Linked DNA regions of Homo sapiens. The protein of the gene in region 2 interacts with the protein of the main gene of each other region in a pairwise test. Each region holds a gene or a part of one and is shown on either strand. Other genes may lie near its edges.

The links. Proteins that work in one complex are often made in the same cells at the same time.
Region 1: the proteins of SMYD1 (region 2) and CIMIP2A interact in binary tests that used the Homo sapiens proteins (3 or more experiments, as listed by UniProt).
Region 3: the proteins of SMYD1 (region 2) and DISC1 interact in binary tests that used the Homo sapiens proteins (3 or more experiments, as listed by UniProt).

Annotation. Positions count from the first base shown.
Region 1 is NC_000009.12:137,244,752-137,251,949, forward strand, and holds the start of CIMIP2A (ciliary microtubule inner protein 2A), read right to left. Parts: upstream 2,965-7,198; coding exon 2,909-2,964; intron 1,103-2,908; coding exon 888-1,102; intron 807-887; coding exon 556-806; intron 468-555; coding exon 338-467; intron 228-337; coding exon of another isoform or gene 64-227; exon of another isoform or gene 59-63; intron 1-58. Other genes in the region: protein STPG3, read left to right, coding at 6,536-6,645, 6,987-7,144. UniProt on the Homo sapiens protein: Microtubule inner protein (MIP) part of the dynein-decorated doublet microtubules (DMTs) in flagellum axoneme. Binds to the intra-tubulin interfaces.
Region 2 is NC_000002.12:88,084,825-88,091,824, reverse strand, and holds part of SMYD1 (histone-lysine N-methyltransferase SMYD1), read right to left. Parts: intron 3,964-7,000; coding exon 3,750-3,963; intron 814-3,749; coding exon 683-813; intron 1-682. UniProt on the Homo sapiens protein: Methylates histone H3 at 'Lys-4' (H3K4me), seems able to perform both mono-, di-, and trimethylation. Acts as a transcriptional repressor. Essential for cardiomyocyte differentiation and cardiac morphogenesis.
Region 3 is NC_000001.11:231,629,790-231,636,789, reverse strand, and holds part of DISC1 (disrupted in schizophrenia 1 protein), read right to left. Parts: intron 1-7,000. UniProt on the Homo sapiens protein: Involved in the regulation of multiple aspects of embryonic and adult neurogenesis. Required for neural progenitor proliferation in the ventrical/subventrical zone during embryonic brain development and in the adult dentate gyrus of the hippocampus.

The sequences.
Region 1 (7,198 bases), on a different chromosome or scaffold from region 2:
TGTACGGGCTACCCCAAGCCCCCTTAGCCTTCCCCTGGGCACACCCACCTGCCCTCAGACGTGTCAGGGAAGCCAGGCAAGGCTCCCTTTCGTTCCCTGAACGTTGGCGACTGTCTGATGTGGCCAAATGGGAACAGGCAGGCAAGGCACCGCCTCGTCTTGGGAAAAGCTGGGCTCCTGGAAGCAGCTGGGAGGCAGAGGAGGTCCCCCCAGGCCGCTAGCCTGTTCTGGAGCAGGAAAAGTGGGCCCCTGTGGCAGCCTCCTCAGGGGCTCTCACACTGCAAGAACCTTGTGGGGAGGGGCGGCCTTCTCCAGCCCAGCCCAGGCCCACACCCACCTGAGATGGCCTTGCGTTGGATTAGGTTAGGGTGGTCCAGCTGCGGCAGCCGCTGGAAGCTGCCCACATCTAGCGTCTCCTGCTGGCGGCGGGCGGGGGGTGGGTACTCATCCCTCTGGCAGTGGTACAGCTGGAGCGGGGAGGAAGCGGAGGTCACGGTGCAGCTCCCACCTGGGGCTGAGCGGAATGGGCTTGGCACTGGTGCATCCCCTGGCTGCCTGGTGCTGCCTGGGGGCCTCGCAAACAGGAGTGGCGCTCTTCCAGGCCTCTTCCCCGTATACTGGGTGTCCCAAGTCTCTGGAGTCTCCCTTCCTGCCTGGTGGGCACGGAGGGTGCGGGGTGTCGGGCGTGAAGCCTGCAGGCAGCAGAATCTGTCTGGGTATGTTCTCTACCCCTGGCGGCTCCTGGGCGTCCACCTCCAAGGGTGGGAGCTGGCCCAGAATCTCAAAGTTCTTAGAGGGCTTCAGACCTGTACCAACAGGGCAGCCTGTGAGTGCCGGGACAGGCAGGCGGGCACAGGAGGGTGCAGGGCTGGGGACTGGCAGCTCACTGGTGTAGTGGGGGATGTAGGGCTCCGTCAGGTCTTGGCAGGGAACCCTCGGGGGCTTGGACTGGCTGAAGTCCTCAATGAACTTGGGTTTGGACATGGGGGACAGCACAGAGCAGGGGCTCTTCTGCACACTGGGGTCTGTGAGCAGCTGCCCCGTGGTACGCCCATAGGTGTTCCCCACCTGGTAGCGCAGCTGCGGAAAGAAGCCGGCATAGCTGTGGAGGGAAGAGAAGAAGGCAGGGCAGGTCTCAAGGGCAGCCCCAGCACTGGGCAGGGCCCCTTCAAGCCAGATGTGGATTCAGCCTGCTGGCCACTTAGCAGCAGGTTGGCCTGTGGCAGCTCGCCTGCCCTCTGCTCACCTGTAAATGGGGCTGCAGTGGCACTTGCCTTCTAGAGCTCTCTCAGCCTGAACAGGCGGCACACACCACATGCTGGGAACACGTCAGCACCACAGCAGATGGCCGCCTGCCTTGTACCAGCCCCTCCAACCCTCTCCCACCCCTCATTCCAACTGCCAGCAAATCAGGGGTGCTCTGCCCTGGCAAAGCAAGTACAGGCACAAGACGTGTGGGCCAGGACATAGGCGAGGGACGGACCCTTGGACACACGCAGGGCCCACCAGGAGGGTGTTGCGTGGGCTTGGCCTGCACCTGTGCCACCCCAGGAGGCCAGTAGCCTCCTGCACGGGAAGAGAACTGGGAGGCAGGTGGAGGGCTGGGCTTTTCCGGGCCCTCATTCAACCTCGAGGGGCATGGTGCAGGTGGTCACAGGCGGTTCAGCGCCTCAGGGTCTATGTGATCTTTCAAGGAGTGAGAACTACCTTCGTCTTAAAAACTGCCAAAGGGCCGGGCGCGGTGGCTCACGCCTGTCATCCCAGCACTTTGGGAGGCTGAGGCGGGCGGATCACGAGGTCAGGAGATCAAGACCATCCTGGCCAACATGGTGAAACCCTGTCTCTATTAAAAATGCAAAAAGTTATCCAGGCATTGGTGGCGGGCCCTGTAGTCCCAGCTGCTCGGGAGGCTGAGGCAGGAGAATGGCGTGAACCCAGGAGGCGGAGCTTGCAGTGAGCCAAGATCGCCCCACTGCACTCCAGCCTGGGCAACAGAGCGAGACTCCGTCTCAAAAGAAAAAAAAAAGCCGAGCAACTTCCAGCCTCAGCTTCACCTGCCCCTTCCCCAGACGTAGCTGTTCAGAGGCAGGTGTGGTTTCTTCCCAGCCTTTCCCCTTTGCATGTAGCGTGTGTGTATGTAGGTGCACACACACACACGTTCCGTAGAGGGGTTACTTTTATTTTTTGTTTGGGGGGATATCTAGTGAGGCAGCCTGGCGTTTGCTTGCCTTGTCTTTAAAGTGTGGAGTCCTGGCCGGGCGTGGTGGCTTAAGCCTGTCATCCCAGCACTTTGGGAGGCCGAGGTGGGCAGATCACTTGAGGTCAGGAGTTCGAGACCAGCCTGACCAACATAAAGAAACCTCGTCCCTACTAAAAATACAAAATTAGCCAGGTGTGGTGGCAGATGCCTGTAATCCCAGCTACTCCGGAAGCTGAGACAGGAGAATCGCTTGAACCTGGGAGGCAGAGGTTGCGGTAAGCCAAGATTGCACCATTGCATTCCAGCCTGGGTAATAAGAGCGAAACTCTGTCTCAAAAAATAAATAAATAAAATGAAATGAAGTGTGGAGTCCTCTCTGGAGTGGGCGTCGGGCACTTACTAGCCGGCCTCTGCCGGCTGCTGGCTGACCCAGTTTCTGCTCGACAGACGTGCTGGCCACCAGGTATCGAGTTCGCAGCTGCACACCAGCAGGGAGGGTGAGGCCTGGGCCCCTGGCAACCCCATCCCTGAGCTTCCCCTGTCCCAGGGCTCCCCAGCCCACAGACTGCAGTGCCCCGTGGTGTGGCCTTCAGTTTCCTGGGGTCCAGCTCTGGGCCCCTCACAGCTGGCCTCCATGCCTCAGGCCCCAGCCATTCTCCCCCTCCTGCAGCCCTGGCCCCAGCCACCTCCAGAGCTCCCGGCTCTCACCCAGGGACATAGTGAGGCTCCGGCGTGAAGAGATCGTGTTTCTGAGTAGTTGTCATTTTGCTTTCACTCTGGCCTTGCTGGCTCCAGTCCCTCCCGGCATCCAGCTCCCTTCCCTGAGGGGAGTCCTGTCACCGGGCAACCATTGTGAGGGGCCAGCATTGTGGGCACCTCCTGGGCCAGGCCACCTCGCTAACCCTGTGAGGGCCCACATTGCACAGGTGAGACACTGAGGCCCAGACAGGTGCCAGGCAGGGGAGGAGTTGCGGTGAGGCAGGTGGTCCGGGAGGAAGTCCCATTAACTTCAGAGCTCAGAAAACAGGACTGTCCCTCCAGAAAGGGCCTGGGCTCTTGCTGCCCCCAGGAGGCCACCAGCCCCAGTCTCAGGGTGAGGCTAAGGGAGTCCCCAGGCCCCCTCCTCTGACAGGAGGCCTTGCAGCTGCAGAGCCTTGGCTCGAGTCAGGGGCTTCCCGGCCTGCAGGGCTGTGCGAACTCTCCCTCCAGCCCTTCATGTGGCGCAGGGTGTTATGTTTACATTTTAAGCAAATCCTGAATTTTGTTCTTTTTTTGTACAGGAAGGACTTCCTAACCATAAAAATGAAGGAAGGCGGCCAGGCACGGTGGCTCACACCTGTAATCCCAGCACTTTGGGAGGCCGAGGCAGGCAGATCATGTCAGGAGTTCGAGACCAGCCTGACTGACATAGTCAAATCCCGTCTCTACTAAAAATACAAAAATTAGCCAGGTGCGGTGGCGTGCGCCTGTAGTCCCAGCTACTCGGGAGGCTGAGGCAGGAGAATGGCGTGAACCCAGGAGGTGGAGATTGCAATGAGCTGAGATCGTGCCACTGCACTCCAGCCTGGGCCACAGAGTGAGACTCTGTCTCAAAAAAAAAAAAAAAAAAAGAAAGAAAGAAGAAAGGCTGGGCACTGTGGCTCATGCCTATAATTGCGGTGCTTTCGGAGGCCGAGGCAGGATGAGGTGTGCAGATTGCTTGAGCCTAGGAGTTCAGGCCAGCTGGGCAACATGGGGAAACCCCACCTCTACAAAAAAGAAAGAAAAATTAGCCAGGCATGGTGAATGTGCCTGTGATCCCAGTTACTTGGGAGGCTGAGGTGGGAGGATGGCCAGAGCCTAGGAGGTTGAGGCTGTAGTGAGCTGAGATCGCACCGCTGCACTTCAGCCTGGGCAACAGAACCAGACCATTTCTCACAAACAAACAAAAAAACAACTAAAAGGCAAACTAAAAAACTGGAAAAAAGTTTGCAGTAAGTGCTATGAACAAATCTGGTATCAGCATAAAAAGCTCTCACAAAACAAAGATATAAACAACACCTCCATGGAAAATGCAGACTAATATGGTTTTTTTTTTTGTATTTTTAGTAGAGACAGGGTTTCACCATGTTAGCCAGGATGGTCTCGAACTCCTGACCTCGTGATCCGCCCACCTCGGCCTCCCAAAGTGCTGGGATTACAGGCGTGAGCCACTGTGCCCGGCCAATATGACCTTTTTAAGAAAAAAAGACCGCAGTCCGTAAATATAAGGGCATAAAGCAGGACCATAATCACATACATGCTGACTGTGTGTTGAGAGCAGTTTCTGAGGCTTACTGCCGGCAGGGTCACAGTGAGAAGGGCCTCTAATTTGGGTGGTGCCTTCTGGAAACCAAGTTGGTATGGATCACGTCCATACAAGACACTGCAAACTGGGACCATTGCTTCCACTCCTAAGAAGCTGTCTGGCATTCTGGTAGACGCTGGTTTTCCTCCACCGTTCCTGGCTGGTAATTCCCATATTCCCATAGCCCTTGGTAGGGCCTTTTGTTAGAATGTTGGGTGGGTGATGCTTGGGGGGTGCGGGCGGGGGACTTTTACCTCCTGCCCTCCTTTCACCTGCCCCAAGGCAGGACGCTAACATTCTCACCTTTCTGACTGTGGGTCTTAAGACCCTTCCAGGAGAGGTCCCACCTAAGCCCTGGGGGCAGGAATGCTGACATCAGGAAGCTTCCGTAAAATCCCAAGAGGACTGAGGCTCAGGGAACTTCTGGACAGGGGAACACCTGGAGGTTCCCAGAGGGCGGCAACTAGCGAGGACATGGAAGCGCCAGCCCCTCCCCGTGCCTCTCTCTACGCTTCTTCATTGGTATCCTTTGCAATCAATACCCTTTACAATAAACCAGTAAACGTCATAACTTCCCTAGTTCTATGAGTGGCTCCAGCAAATTAACCCAAAGACGGTGTCACAGGAACCCCAAATTGAAGCTAGTTGGTCAGAAGTTCCAGGGGCCCAGGCTTGCGACTGGTGTGTGTCTGGAGGCCCTGCCCCTATCTGTGTCTGGAGGCCTTCTTGGGATGGAGCTCTCACCCTGTGGGATCTGACACCATCTCCAGGTAAATGGTGAAGGAAATGAATTAGAGGACACCCAGCTTGGTGTGTGGGGAACAACCCCCCTCCCTCAACATTTGGGCAGAGGCCTCCTTCTGTGACGGCTGTGGTGGTGTGGGCGCAGAGCCGGACACTGAGAGAGCATTTCCCCCACGCACCTTCTCAAGGAGAGGATGGATGTCCAGCAGCACCATTCACGGTGGCAACGTTTATTACAGGGCAGGGAGGACCTGGAGGAGCCTATCTGTCCAATGACAAGGGCTTCATTAGCAAAGTACACTCTGTTCCACTGGCAGCCAGTCAACTCTGAACCCGGCACAACCTGGGCAGGGGCCCCGGAGCACAGGCGTGAACCCCTCGCCCAGATAAAACCCGTGTTTCCTCAAGCACGTGTCCATCTGTCTGCCTGGCAGGCCCAGTGCTGAAGGGGAGGCATCCAGAGAGGGCGGAGGAGGGCCCCAAGTTGGCCCTGTTCACAGGCCCTGCCCTGGTGGATTCTGGGCCAAGGTCAGGGCTGGGACCAACTGGTGGTCAGCTCCAGAGACCACACAGTGAGGGCCCTGGTGCCCACACGGGCTCTTGCTCACACAGGCTGGCTGTTCCTTTGCAGCTCTGGCAGCCCGGCCATCTGTGACACCCTCTAGCCTCTGTGCCCCCAGGTGAGAGGTAGGCCCTCACACCCCAGCCCTGGCTGGGCTCCAAGGCCCGGCCTGCCTCTGGTGTCAGACCCATCTGATGTGGATTTGCTTTTCCCTTAAGTGGAAATCCAGATGGGGTGGCGGCTCCTCCTCTTCCTCCAGGGAGCCTTCCTGGGCCCCTCCCTCCTACCCCCAGGGGGTCCTGGCTGGCCAGACACAGCTGGGCATCTCCTAGGGCTTGGTGGATGCCGGTGGGTCCTGTTCCCTCCACCCCCTCTGCTGAGGCCTCAGTCCTCCCAGACCTGCTAGAGTGGACCCCAGACTCCCAGGAGACCCCAGGGTGCAGGAGAGGGGAGAAGGCTGGAAAGGTTGCGGGGAGGGAGAGGGCTGGGCCAGGAGTCACCGGGGCAGGCTGGGGGTCCTGGCCCAGGCGGACCCGCTGATCATCTAGTTAGTGGGGGAGGGGCCCACCAGGGGTCGGGGCCCGGGGCAGCCCCTCCAGGGCCAGACAATGTGTCTTCCTCAGGAGTCCCAGCAACAGAGGGGCCTACCAGTGAGGTCACAGAGCTCCGTGGTGCCGTTGGGGAAGAGAGCCAGGAGACTCTGATGATGAATTCTGACCAGAAGGCAGTGAAATTCCTGGCAAATTTTTACATCAATGGAGGCAAACACTGGACCCATGGTCACCTGAGGCAGACACAACCAGAGCCCACCCAGTAACTGGCGGAGAGGGGGAGAAGGGGCGGGCCAGCTGGGAGTGGCCAGGGGGCTGAGGGACAGTGTGGGGGGCAGGTTGCTGGGCAGGCGGCTGGGGGACTGAGGGACAGTGTGGGGACAGGCTGTGGGGCAGGCGGCTGGGAGCGGCCAGGGGCTGAGGGACAGTAGAGGGGACAGGCGGCTGGGAGCGGCCAGGGGCTGAGGGACAGTGTGGGGACAGGCTGTGGGGCACGTGGCTGGGAGCAGCCGGGGGCTGAGGGACAATAGAGGGGACAGGCTGTGGGGCATGTGGCTGGGAGCGGCCGGGGGCTGAGACAGTGGCTGCTGGTCTCCCTTGCAGGCCCAAGGCATCTGTGCTGTTGTTGGGCCCGGAGCCGGGGATGGCCTGGGATGAGACACAGCCCCCAAAGATGAAGGAGATCCCAGTTGGCCTCAGGTTACAGACGGGCACCCCCCAGGAGTCCCTGCCCACCTACACCCAGACCCTGAGGGAACTATGTGAGTGAGGGTCCTGGCCACCCCACCCCCAAGCTGGTCTTTGGGGGGCTGTGG
Region 2 (7,000 bases):
TGGCATGATTATAGTTCACTGCAGCCTCAACCTCCTGAGGTCAAGTGATCCTCCTGCCTCATCCTCATGAGTAGCTGGGACTGCAGGCACACACCACCATGCCCGGCTAATGTATTTATTTATGTATTTATTTATTTTTTATAGATACGGGGGTATCACTGTGTTGTCCACGCTGATCTCAAACTCCTGACCTCAAGTGATCCGCCCCCTCCTCGGGCTCCCAAAGAGCTGGGATTACAGGCATGAGCCACCAGTCCCTGCCCCTTGTTAGTATCTTAAACCCTGTCCACACTTCTGTAAATTGTCCCTTCATTCAATTCTATTTGGGTAAAACCTTTTGAGTGTGCCTCCTGATTCCTGCTGAGACCTTGACTAAATGACCTCTAGACAGATAATCCTAGGCTTCAAGTTTTAAAATAGTAGTTAAAGGTTTATCTAACCTGTCCAGGCAGCCCCAAGAAACATACACATTCAGAAATGACCCAGGTTGAATTCTTTGATATCCTCCATGATGCCTTTCTCTCATTCACAATTATTCTGGAATGAGATTTCTATGTGCTATACATTTAAAATTTATGCTAGTTCAGGTTTAGCAGGTTGACTTTGGCTTAAGTCAAGTGGAGAAAACACCATAGGTCTCCCCATCCCCTTCACACACACCCCCACATAAAGACATACTCACTTGCCATTGTTAAATATGACAGTACAGTTGGGCCAACAGTCATGGTTCACCAGGCCCAGGTTGGGGAAGATGCCTACGCCCACGGCCTGCAGGCCTCTCTGATCACTGAGAGTAAAACCGTTGCAGTTAATCTACCCAGGGGAAAAGATGAAAGAGTCAGTCGACAGACATGGACAGAACAACATCCTAGCTGTTGAAAGGAGTTTTAAAAAACAGAAGACCCAGTCTCACCCTGGAGATGCTTAGGGAGTCTGGACACAGAACAATTAGTCTCCTGTTCTCTGCGTGACTCCAGATGACACACAAGATTAGGGCCATGGAACAGTCCCATACCTGCAAAAATGCAGCCCTACCTTGAAAGTTTTTTGTGGCTCTATTCTAAAAGAGTCAAAGGTGGAAATATTTTCCTTTTTCTGTATCTGGGTCTTACATGAGTATTCCTCAGTCTCTGTCTTGGTTTTTCTCTCTGTACCCTGCTTTGTGTGCGCGTGGGCGTGTGTGTGTGTGTGAGCTTTTCCTTCCCCTGTTTCCTCTGCCTACTCAGTTTAAACTCCTGTAGCTGTTCATAAAAAAAAATTGACATCTCTTTTGATTATTTTGTATCTGGTGCATAGTTTTATATTCCCTGCTCACAGTTGTTAAATCTGATGAGTGCCATATTTAACACTTATCTCTGAGATTCAAGGCAAATCAAGTTGGTTACTACTGATGTGGCATCCAAGTGATTTTCTTTTCCTTAAAAATAAATTTTTCTTTACAGAAACAGACACCAAATATCTGCTCTCACAGTAGGAAAAATACATAAGAATAAATATAACGTAGAATACATTAGTAACTGCATGCAGATTTCCACTTCATCTATAAATACATCTATGAATACATGCTGTACATAACAGAAACTCAGTAGACATTTATGCCCTCACATGGATATTTGTCATAGATATGGAGGAGTGTCACTTTCTCCATTTATTCTCATCAGACATTTAGTAAGTTCATGATGTTAAGCCTCTGAGTACCACTAACAAGCTGTACTACTTGGAGCAAACTTCTTTCTTCTCTGAGCCCTGGTTTTCCCATCTATAGGTTGAATAAATTGGACTAGATAAGCTCCAAGGATCTTTTCAGCTCTAACCTTTGGTAATTATATGACCTCTAGCCCTAGTCCCCAGACCTATCAGGGATGCCGAAGATTACTCAACACACCAATTCACCCCAAGGCTATAGAACATAACAGGTAAAAGTAAAAGCTTAGGCCAGGCGTGGTGGCTTACGCCTGTAATCCCAGCACTTTGGAAGGCAGAGATGGGCAGATCACTTGAGCTCAGGAGTTTGAGATCAGCCTGGGCAATATGGTGAAACCCTGCTTCTATAAAAAAAAAAAAGCAAAAATTAACCAGGCATAGTGGTATGCATCTGTGGTCCCAGCTACTTGGGAGGCGGGAGGATCACTTGAGCCTGGAAGATGGAGTTTGCAATGAACCATGATTGCACCACTGCACTCCAGCCTGAGTGACAGAGTAAGACCCTCATCTCAAAAAAAAAAAAAAAAAAAAAAAACAGGTAGAAGCTCTGGCTCCTGAAAATACAGACTGCTTCTAGACTTTCCCTGGGCACAAGCTGACCATGTGGCTTTTGGAGGTCATGTAACCCCTCTGGGCCTAGGTTTTCTGTTCTATAAAATAGAAATACTGAAAGCATGGACCTTACCTTGTGTTGTAAAGATTGTGTAAAATAATACATGGGAAGCTGTGGTGGTTAATTTTGTGTGCCCACATGGCTGGTCAATGGTGCCCAGATATTTGGTCAAATACTATAATGTATGCTTCTGTGAAGGTGTTTTTGGATGAGATTCACATTTAAATTGGTGGAGTTTGAGTAAAGCAGAGTGCCTGCTAGAATGTGGGTGGGCCTCATTTAATCAGTTGAAGACCTGAATAGAATAAAGACTGATCTCCCCTGAGCAAGGAGTTCTGCCAGCAGAATGCCTCCGGACTTGAACTGCAACACTTCCCTGATCTCCAGCCTGATGGCCTACCTTGCAGATTTTGGACTTACCAAGCCTCCACCATTGCGTGAGCCAAATCCTTAGACTCAATCAATCTCTCTCCCTTTGCCCCCCAATATGGTGAAGACTGGAGAGATGTCAGTGTGATGTTTGTCCTCCTCCGTCCTCAGCCTGCTCACCTTCACCACATAAAGGTCCTGGCCTACCAGATGGAACACATCCATCCCCACAGCCAGGACCTGAGCCTCCTCATCCACCGGGTTCTCGCCCCCACTTCCCGGACTCTTATGGCCTCGTCTGGCTTGGTTGCTCCCACCCCAAAACCCTGACTCCCCTCTCTCTGGCTCACATCCCCCACTGCTCCAGGCTTCACATCAATCCTGCCTGGCAGACCTGGAAAAAGGTTTCCAAAGTGACTGGTGGGCAGGAAGGGATAGTGATTGGGGGTCTTTATTTTCAACGTGGAGAGGAAAAAAATGTAAAAAGTGCAGATAAGTAAGAGGATAAATTACCATCCAAATCTACCATCCAGAGATGGATAAATAAGTAAAATTTGTATGTGGGATGCCAATTCAGATACAGCAGGAATGGCCTCACAGTAAACAAGGCCAGAAGACAGAGTCCAGGATGAGGGGTCTTCACTTCAAACTCCTGTCCTCCTTCAGTCCTCTTGGCCTCCCCTCCCAACTCTGGCCTGACAGTTTCTGGAAACTTCTTAGTTGGACGATCCCAGCTGTCACCATGGCCCCTCCTTGATAAGGAATCATACTCTAGAATCTCCGGATTTTATTAGTTGGGTCATTTGGAGGCCTGTCCCTGGGCTCAGAAATGGAAGGGGCAGTAGATGTTTCTGCTACATGCGGTAAATAGAAGGCGGTTTCTCCAGCGCCTCTGGCTGCCTGGGCTAGATGAGACCTTTATGGAAATAGAAATCAGGGTCCAGGGCAGACAGGGCTTCTGCCTCTTAGTTCACTTCTGAGAAGCCCCACCCTCCCCAAGTGGGAGGAGGGAAGGAAAGAGGAGACAGACAGGGAGGATGGAGAAGGGACGCAGGGGGCCTACCACTCCGAAGATGTGCGAGATGTACTGCATGCTGAACTGCTGGCTCTGCGGCGGCCAGTACTGCAAGAATGTGTCCACGTCCACCCGCAGGTCCTTCTGCTCCTCCTCCCCAAAGTGCTCCACGTGGTTCTGCAAGTCGTCCACGGACACCAGGCAGCCCTCCGTGAGCCCGGTGCCTTCTCTCTCCACCCGCCACATGATGCGCGCCGCCAGCCTGTGGGAAGGGCAGCGTCAGGAGGCCACTACAGCTGCATTCATTCCTTCAACACACATTTACTGGGTGTCTCATGCATGCCAGGCACAATGTTGGGCCCAAGATACGTTTTTAAACTAGATGGATGGAATTTATTCTATCATGATGCTTCATATAGTGGGGGAGAGGTAAGTAAACAAGCACATTTTACATAGAAAGTGCTATGCAGAAAAAATAATACAGGGTGGCATGATAGAGAGTGACTGGGGTGGGGAAGCTAAGGTCTTCCAGGGAAGTGTCACAGAGGAGGCACATTTGAGCTGGAATTGGAAGGGGTGGAGGAGCTGGCTCTGTGATACTGGAGAAAGAGCACTTCAGGAGAGGGCAGTGAGTACAAAGGCCCTGAAGAAGGAATGAGCTTGGCATGATGGAGAAGTAGCAGGAAGGCAGAGGTGGCTGGAGCACAGGGAGCAAGAAATGGAGACCAAATAAAGGTGGAGGTGTGGGCAGGAGCCAGGTTCCGTGGGGTCTGGGGAAACAGAGAGGTGCGGCAGCCTGGGTCTCTCAACAGTGTGGCCTACTGGGATGAGCCCTGCATCAGGAGTCTAATGACCTGTTTCCACTTCTTACTGTGTGAGCCTGGGCAAGTCACTTGACCTCTCTGAATCTATCTGGTGGCTTGTAAAATAGGGAAAATAGTCCCTGCTATGCTAACCTCCAGAGGTATTCAGAAGACAAAGTGAAGTAATAGGTGTCTGCATTGTGTGTGAAAGTATTGGTATTCTTTTTTTTTTTTTTTTTTTGGAAGCTATACAGTGTACTCTTTATTTATTTTTATTTTTTTGCAAAGTAAAACTCCACAAGCAAGCATTTTGGGGACTGTGGTGGGGTGGGGGGAGGGGGGAGGGATAGCATTGGGAGATGTACCTAATGCTAGATGACGAGTTAGTGGGTGCAGCGCACCAGCATGGCACATGTATACATATGTAACTAACCTGCACAATGTGCACATGTACCCTAAAACTTAAAGTATAATAAAAAAAAAAAAAGATAGGGATGGGTAGAGATAAGGATAGGGGTAATCTCCTAAAATAAATTTCATTTCTGAAATCGGTACTAATAGAAAGTTGATTGAAAACATAACATGATTTGTTTTATTCCACTTTATTTTTGGCAATCATAAGTATTGGTATTCTTAATGATTGGGGAGTGAGAAAGTGGAGAAGGCAATCTAGGCCGGGAAACAGTGTGAGCGGAGGCCTCGAGGCAGCCACGGGCATGCCACGTGCAGGAAGCAGGGAGGGGCCTGGCCTGGCCGGAGCGGGGCTCTGGGGGAAGAGGAGGAGGCCAGGTGGGACAGGAGGAGACCTATAGAGACACAGGGACTTGAGTATGAGACAAAGGGGTATACTTCACCCCGAAGCCCTCTTTGTTAACTATTAGGTGGCCTGTGATGAAGCTTATGACCCAGGGACACTTTAATGTTCCTGCCACCCACTGACTGCACACTTTTCAGGCATCTGGGAGGGGATGGTGGTCCAGGACAGATCCTGTCCCTGAGGAGAGATCTGCTGGGCAAAGCACAGGCCCTCTCCTCATTTTTTTTAATTGAAATTTTAATTGAGATAATTGCAGATTCACAGGCAGTTGGAAAACAATACAAAGAGATCCCTTGTACATTTTGCCCAGTTTTCTCCAATGGTAACATTTTAGAGAACTAATATCACAGCCAGAATATTAACCCACCTGTATCATTCAGATTTCTTCCGTTTTACTTACACTCATGAATGTGTATGTGTGTTTAATTATATACAATGCTATCACCTATGTAGCTTCATGTATCCACCTACACAGTCAAGACACTAAACAGTGCCATCACCTCAGGGTCCCTTCTGTCCCCCCACCTCTTTTTGAACCATTTTAACCATTTTTAAGCATACAGTTTGGTGGCATTAAGCACACTCACACTGCTGTGCAACCATCACCAACCATCTGTTTCCAGAACGTTTTTCATCTTCCCGATTTCTCCTGTTTGAGTCACTGAGTTATTTCTGGAGAAATGCCCCGCATGGGACTCCAGGTGCCTGGAAACTGAGGTGTCTTCACAGGGAGCCCAGGGCAGCACTGGGGAAAATACGACTCAGCACAGGGAAGATCTGCTGCCTCCAAATACCGAGGAAAGGGTCATGAAGCTCAGAGAATAGAGGTCAATGGGTGGTAGATTTCAACTCAGTCACTATCATAGGAGGTGCCATTTACTTCAGGTCTTGAAGGATATGTAGTGTTTCAATAGATGGAGCTAAGGGGCATGGAGAGGTTGACTGAGCCATTTCATCCTGCAGGTTCCTAAAAATCATCAGGATATGACAATTCCATTCTGTGCCTTAACTTCACACACTATGCACACAGTGAAAATGCTCCCAGTCACCATCTCCATCTCCTTTGCTCTGCAGTGCTGGCTTCCTGAGCATCTCCCTGCAGCCCAGCACTGAGCCCCACCCCAGCGGAACCTCCAGGATTGGGAATCTCTTGGGCTGGAGCTATAGGCCTTGAGATTCTGATGATGGCCACCAGGAAAGGCCATTAGTTGCAAACTCAAATGCACTCTCTGGTGTAATGTGTATGACCACAGGGAGCAGTGGTGCTGCTGTGACTTAGAACGCTCTGTATTTTTTCAAAGGTGGCAGATACTACTCAGCTCTAGCCTATTTTGCCAGATTTTCAGTTTTTTGTTTATTTTTTTTTTCAAGAGAAGTCAGAAATCCTAATTTTAAAATGTGAAATTTCCCAATTTTTAAACATTGGTGGATCAATTTAAAAATACTTGCCCCTTGTCCGGGCATGGTGGCTCACAGTTGTAATCCCAGCACTTTGGGAGGCCGAGACGGGTGGATCGCTTGAGCTCAGGAGTTCGAGGCTACCCTGGGCAACATGATAAAACCCCATCTCTAAAAAAATACAAAAATTAGCCAGATGTGGAGGTGTGTGCCTGTGGTCTCAGCTAGTTGAGAGGCTGAAGTGGGAGGATCACTTGAGCCTGGGAGGTCAAGGCTGCAGT
Region 3 (7,000 bases), on a different chromosome or scaffold from region 2:
GAATAAAATTTTAAAGGTAGTGTCAATATAAATTCATACCAAGATTAGCTGAAGGGAAAGTAACTCCCATAAGACATCTCATTTTGTTTCCACTGAGCCTGTTCTGACTCCTTGAAATGGCAGAAACAGGGGTAATAACAATATCTTTTATCATGTATTACCTTATGCTTTTCAAAAAAAGTTTCAAAAACACAATAAATATTTGAATAAATGCACTTAGATAATCCCAAATCAGAGTCAAGAAAATATATAAAAGTTAAATTCAAATGATAGAATTTGTCCATTTTTCCATTCAAATTACAATTTAAGTCAAGTAAAGAAAGACATACAAAAGCTGCATGATTAGGAGGGAGTGCAGCGCTCATCCTCCTGTCCCCAAGGCCGATTAGCCAGCTGGGTGAGAGATGAGATCATGAGTTCTGGGCCAATGAGTCACTGCCCTTCACCATTGCCCCCAGACACAAACAGCTGCAGGTCTCCCAAAGCGTGTGTCCACCCTACGGAGCTGCCACCCTACAGAGGAGAAAATGTGGGTGAAAGTAAGCAAAAGCAACATCACAACCATGAAATTAACTCAGTGTTCTACAAATGGAGAATTATATATCTCTTTCTGAATGAAGAGCAGCATATTTCATACACAGTGTGGAAATAAACATTGAGTAAATTGTTTTCAAAATTGTCATACCTAGGAGTAAACCCAGCAATAGGTAAATTATAAATTAAAGGAGCCCTTCTTTCTTCCTCCATCTATCCATCCATCTAGACTGTAAGGTATTTATTAGGCATCTACTGGTGCTAAATACTTCTTAATGATTTTAGTACACCCCGATGTGCCCAGTCCTTCTGATGAAACAATATCCGGAAACTTCATGAGAATGAATTCTCTTTTTTCCACGGGACTATAGGCTTCTCAATGGTGTAGACAACACTATCTATTTGAATTTACATATCAATTTACACATATATATACAAACATAAGTATATATATTTTTTATATTCAAGAGCTATCATAGTATCTGACTATATAGTGTATGCATCTCAATAAATATTTAAACTGAACTGAACTTCTGAAACTCCTGATTGGTTTCAAAAGATATAAAAATAATAGACTTGGTTAATCTATGCATTGGATTAATACATCCTAAATATAATTAAGAGTTTGGTCTAATCCAGTGAGAACAGAGTAAACCATAAGTGTACTACATAGATGAGGGAGTAAGGAGATAAACCAGAACTGAAACCTTGAGTTGAAGAAGTCTACATTGGAGTCAGAAAAACAGGTTATATCCATAACAAACTATAACAGAAGAAGGAGAGAGCAGACGATTCCAGAGAACCAGGGAAGGCTGAGAAGCATTATTGATTTGCTAGGTGGTAAATGAGGGATGACATTTTGATGCGTTCAGATTGGGAGCAAGAAAGACGGATTCTGTAATATTCTCGGTGGGCAGAATAATGTGCATAATAAAAAGGCCAGAGTGTCCGTTTTAAGTGTTTAAGGGCCAGTGTATGGAAAGCTTGAAAAGAGATGCTAAGAATTTGCTTGGGGGGAGATAATGAGTCTCTGAAAGCCCCTTCCACAGAGGAACAATAACCCAATCAGATCTGTGCTTTGTGAGGACTGTCCTGGCAGCAGTGTGCAGGCCTGATTGGAAGGAGTTACTCAACAGAGACATAATGACATAATCCAGTATCAGAACTGGGAAGACACAGGAAGGGCTGGAACACCTTCTGAAGAGGCATCCTAGGTGTGGCTGTTAAGCTCTAAGGCCTAAGAATACCAGGCTCCCTTAGTTCTCTCTAGACTGGATGGCCCTTGAGAACAATCTACATTTTTGGTTTTGGGGGAGTTTTTTCATTTTTTTTTTGAGACAGGGTCTTGCTATGTTGTCCAGGCTGGAGTGCAGTGGCTATTTGTAGGCACAAGCATAGCGCACTGCCACCTTGAACTCCTGGCCTCAAGCAATCCTCCCGCCCCAGCCTTCCAAGGAGCTGGGACTATAGGCATGCACCACCATGCCTGGCACTCTACATTTTTAAGTACCCTGCAATGTACAACACTGTACTGTGTATACAGTAGGTGCTAGTGTTTGTGAATGAATAAATAAACACAATGGAAGAAATTAATGGATAAGTTAATGTCTCTAGGAGATAATTCTATAAACTAAGGAACACAAAATGATTAATAGAGTCGAGGCAATTTAAGGCCCCCAAATCTACTGTTTAAATTGAATACAGATGCTCTATCCCCAAGGACAGTGTCTCACATTTCATTTTGCTTGGCCTGCAGCTATAACACAAGACGCTAGGGAAACATTAAGACTTGTACTGAAATACGCAAACTTTTTTTCTTCAGAAGATTTGTGATCCCAAAACAGCTCTTGCAACTCTAAGTTTCCAGTGTAGCAGAAATATTAGAACCCCGTTTTATCTCTGTATTTACTTTTTTTTTCACTTGACCATTGTAAAATAATCTTCCTTTTCCTATCAGTGTTGGAGTAAGATGAGGCATGCTTTCACTACAAATGCAAAACACGCACATTCTCCTGTGTTAAAAATAAAGTCCAATAATCAATCCACTCACAAACCAAGAGATGACAGGTACAGGCCAGGCGCGGTGGCTCACTCCTGTAATCCCAGCACTTTGAGAAGCCGAGGCAGGCGGATCACTTGAGTTTAGGAGCTCAAGACCAGCCTGGCCGACATGGTGAAACTCTGTCTCTACTAAAAATACAAAAATTAGCTGCACGTGGTGGGGCATGCCTGTAATCCCAGGTACTTGGGAGGCTGAGGCAGAAGAATTGCTTGAACCTGGGAGGCGGAGGTTGCAGTGAGCCAAGACTGCGCCACTGCACTCCAGCCTGGGCTACAGAGCAAGACTCCGTTTCAAAAAAAAAAAAAAAAAGATGACAGGTATGAAAAAGAAAAGTTAGGTAGGCGTACATGTCACAAAATGCAATTTCAACTCAGATTCCACATTCAGGACACAACTTACTCATTAAACTTTAGATATTTCACCTTTCAACCTGTGAAAGCGATTAGTCTCCATGCAAGGCCACCTGTCAAATGCACGTTTCTACTCCTGGTAGATTTGTTCATCTGGGCGAACATAATTGTGTTAATGATCAATATCAATCCTAGACATGTACAGCTCTGGGGAGTTAAAGTAGCTACGACATTCGGGCAGATGACTGCAAAGAAGCTATCTAGGCTTCCTGAAATGGAACCACCTGGGCAAGGGAAGGAAGCAAAATGTGGAAGCCCAATGAGCAGGGAATAGGAAATTTACACAGTAGCTCAAATCCTGCACAATCCCAATCCTGCAGGACAACGATCACAGCATCTTAGCACTGGAAGGGTTCCCATTCATCATCCAACGCAGCCCCCTCCCCAGTGCAGAACCCTCATGACAGTCACCCTAGAGTCATCCACACTGCCCTACATACTTCCAATGACAAAATGCTCTCTGCCTTTCGGGGTAGCCTATTCCATCAATGGATAACTATTTTTAGCAAGTTTTTAATTTAGTCAAAAAGTGATACCTTTCTAATGTGTGGCTGTCATGCTAATTCTAATTCTGAACCAAGTAGCCACTCAATAAACGTTGAATGAATAAATAATGAATTCATGAACAAATAGATTCTTAAGGATCCATTGACATTTAGTGTAACAATAGTAATTACTTGAAAATCTACGTGGTTTTTTGTTTGTTTGTTTTTTTGACGGAGTCTCTCTCTGTAGCCCAGGCTGGAGTGCAGTGACATGATCTTGGCTCACTGCAACCTCTGCCTCCCAGGTTCAAGCGATTCTCCAGCCTCAGCCTCCCAAGTAGCTGGGATTACAGGCACACGCCACCATGCTCAGCTGATTTTTGTATTTTAAGTAGAGATGGGTTTCTGCCATGTTGGCCAGGATGGTCTCGAACTCCTGACCTCAGGTCATCTGCCCACCTTGGCCTCCCAAACTGCTGGAATTACAGGCATGAGCCACTGCGCCTGGCTGAAAATCTAAGTTTTTAAGAGCCATCATAGCTCAAAAAAAAGGGATTCAGTTCAATTCATTTAATGTATCTTAAGCAGGGATGAATTATACAGAACTATGAAATGAAACACAACTTAATGAAAACAGTTCTAAGTAAAAGAAGAGGAGCCAGGTTCTAACAATCACTCTGCTGCTGTTTCTCACTTTTCTCACCTGTAAAAGAAGAAGGCCAGATTACATGATCTCTACTGCCACTTACAACATTCAATACTGTACAATAAATATATGATTTATCTTCAGAGATTGCCATTCCTCACCTCGAGGAGTTTACTGTCTTATTTGCATTTCTCTGAGAGTTCAAACTTTGAACTCTGAAAATAAACGGTAAATGTCCACCCATGACAGGCAAATGTTGTGGCTTAACAGGTAGAATTTTATCCACATTTTTTTATGATGAGCAAGCACAAGGCCACGTGGCTGGAAAATTAACCTGAAGTTGACATGAGAAAAATAATGTGGGGCTACTTATTTCAATCACAGTCATGCATCACTTATTGACAGGGACACTTTCTGAGAAATGTGTCATTAGGTCATTTTGTCATGCAAACACCATAGAGTGTACTCACAAAAACCTAGATGGTATAGGCTATGACACACCTAAGCTATATTGTATAGCTACTGTTCCTAGGCTACAAACCTGTGCAGCATGTTACTGTACTGAATACTGTAGGCAGCCGTAACACAATGGTAAGTACTTTTCCATCTAAACATATCTAAACATAGACAAGGTACAGTAAAAATACACTATAAAAGATGAAAAATGGTACACCTCTATAGGAGGCTTATCATGCATGGAGCTTGCAGGACTGGAAGTTGCTCTGGGTGAGTCAGTGAGTGAGTGGTGAGTGCACGTGAGGGTTGAGGACATAATTTCATGCTACTGTATTTATAAACGCTGTACACTTAGGCTATACTAAATTCATTTAAATTTTTTTCTCAACAATAAATTATCTTTAGCGTACCATAACTTTTTTTACTTTATATATAATAATTTTTAAATTTTTTTAATTTTTTGACTTTTTTATAAAAACACAGCTTAAAACACAAATACATTGTGCAGCTGTACAAAAATATTTTTTCTTTATATCCTTATTATCCTATAAGCTCCTATTTTTAATTTTTATTTTTTTACTTTTCAAACTTTTTGTTAAAAACTAAGACACAAACACACACACTAGCCTGGGCCTACCCAGGGTCAGGATCATCACTATCCCTGCCTTCCACCTCCACACCTTGTCCCGTTGGAAGGCCTTCAAGGCAAAAACACGCATGGAGCCATCATCTCCTATGACAACAATGCCTTCTTCTGATACCTCCTGAAGGACCTGCCTGAGGCGGGTTTACAGTTAACTTTTTTTTACTAAGTAGAAGTACACAAAATAACATTAAAATGTATAGTAAATACTAGGCATTAGGAAATTGACAGCCCAGTATAATCTTATGGGACCACTCTCACATATGTGACATTGACAAAACGTCATTATGCGAGGCATGACTGCACTTATTTTGAGACTATGTCTCTGCATACATAGTTCTCAGTAGCATCATTTGTTAAATAAGGATGCCGACATCTTACCTGCCAGAACACAAGGAGTTTAGCCAACTGGTGTTTTGAAGCTTCATCTGACAATAAGTTCTGTGATTCTGTTTATAAGTCTGTGACGAGTGACCCGAGTGACTGGAGGGAGCCCCATAATGTCTAGCATCCATTTCTGAGTCATGACAAAAAGCCAAAGGGGAAATGGGGCAGGGAAAGGAAGCAGATACAGGACCAGTAGTCATATAAGGGGCTGTGCACACCATGTGAGCCCCTGCCTACCTTCTACAGCTAAATGTCAGTATTTCATTCATTGCCCAGCCACAGTTCTCCCTTCCTGCTTCTACTTGGTGTGAACATTTGAAAGCTCATTGCAAAGTCTTCGCTCAAGAGAAACAGCTGGTGAACTCTGGTTTTGAAAGAAAAAATGGATTCTGAACGGCTAAAGCATCTGGAATTTTAAAAATTACATGATTGTTGCACAGAAGTCATTCGCTAAGGAATTTTTACCACAAAGTCATTAAAGTTAGGAACTAACAACGGAAGACTCCTCGAGGCTAAAAGTCTTATATTACTAAACGGTGCTGACTGAAAAATGGCTCTTCACCGGTGGTTCCAGCTGTGCCAGGAGGGGACCCTCCTCAACCCAGGGTGGCTGCCAAGGGAATCTCTGGAAACAGTGGGCTCTGCTTGGATTCATGAGAACACAGCATATAAACTCAATTACCATCATTATTATCAAAAGAATGATTCTGGCCAGGTGCAATGGTTCACATCTGTAATCCTGGTACTTTGGGAGGTCGAGGCAGAAGTTGCTTGAGGCTCAAGGTCAATCTGGCCAAAATAAGGAGACCCCATCTTTTTTAATTAAAAAAAGAAAAAAAAAGAATGATTCTAATTCTGGTCTAATGACCCTAACCTAAAATATTACCTTTTTTTGTACTCAGAAACTTTGTGTGCTGGTCTTTAAATCTTGTTTAAAGGGCCCGGCGCAGTGGCTCATGCCTGTAATCCCAGCACTTTGGGAGGCTGAGGCGGGCAGATTACAAGGTCAGGAGATCGAGACCATGCTGATCAACATGGTGAAACCCTGTCTGTATTAAAAATACAAAAATTAGCTGGATGTGGTGGTGGGCGCCTGTAATCCCACTACTCGAGAGGCTGAGGCAGGAGAATCGCTTGAACCCAGGAGGCAGAGGTTGCAGTGAGCCGAGATCGTGCCACTGCACTCCAGCCTGGCGACAGAACGAGACTCCGTCTCAAAAAATATATATATTGTTTAAAGGTCACCATTGTACCCTCTCTTTGCTCTGAAGGTCCTGCATCAAACTTTAACCAAAACCACAATAAAATTCAAATATCAACAATTTAGTCTCTAATCCTTCTCCAATCAAAATTTTTAGATTTTAAAAAAAGAAAAAG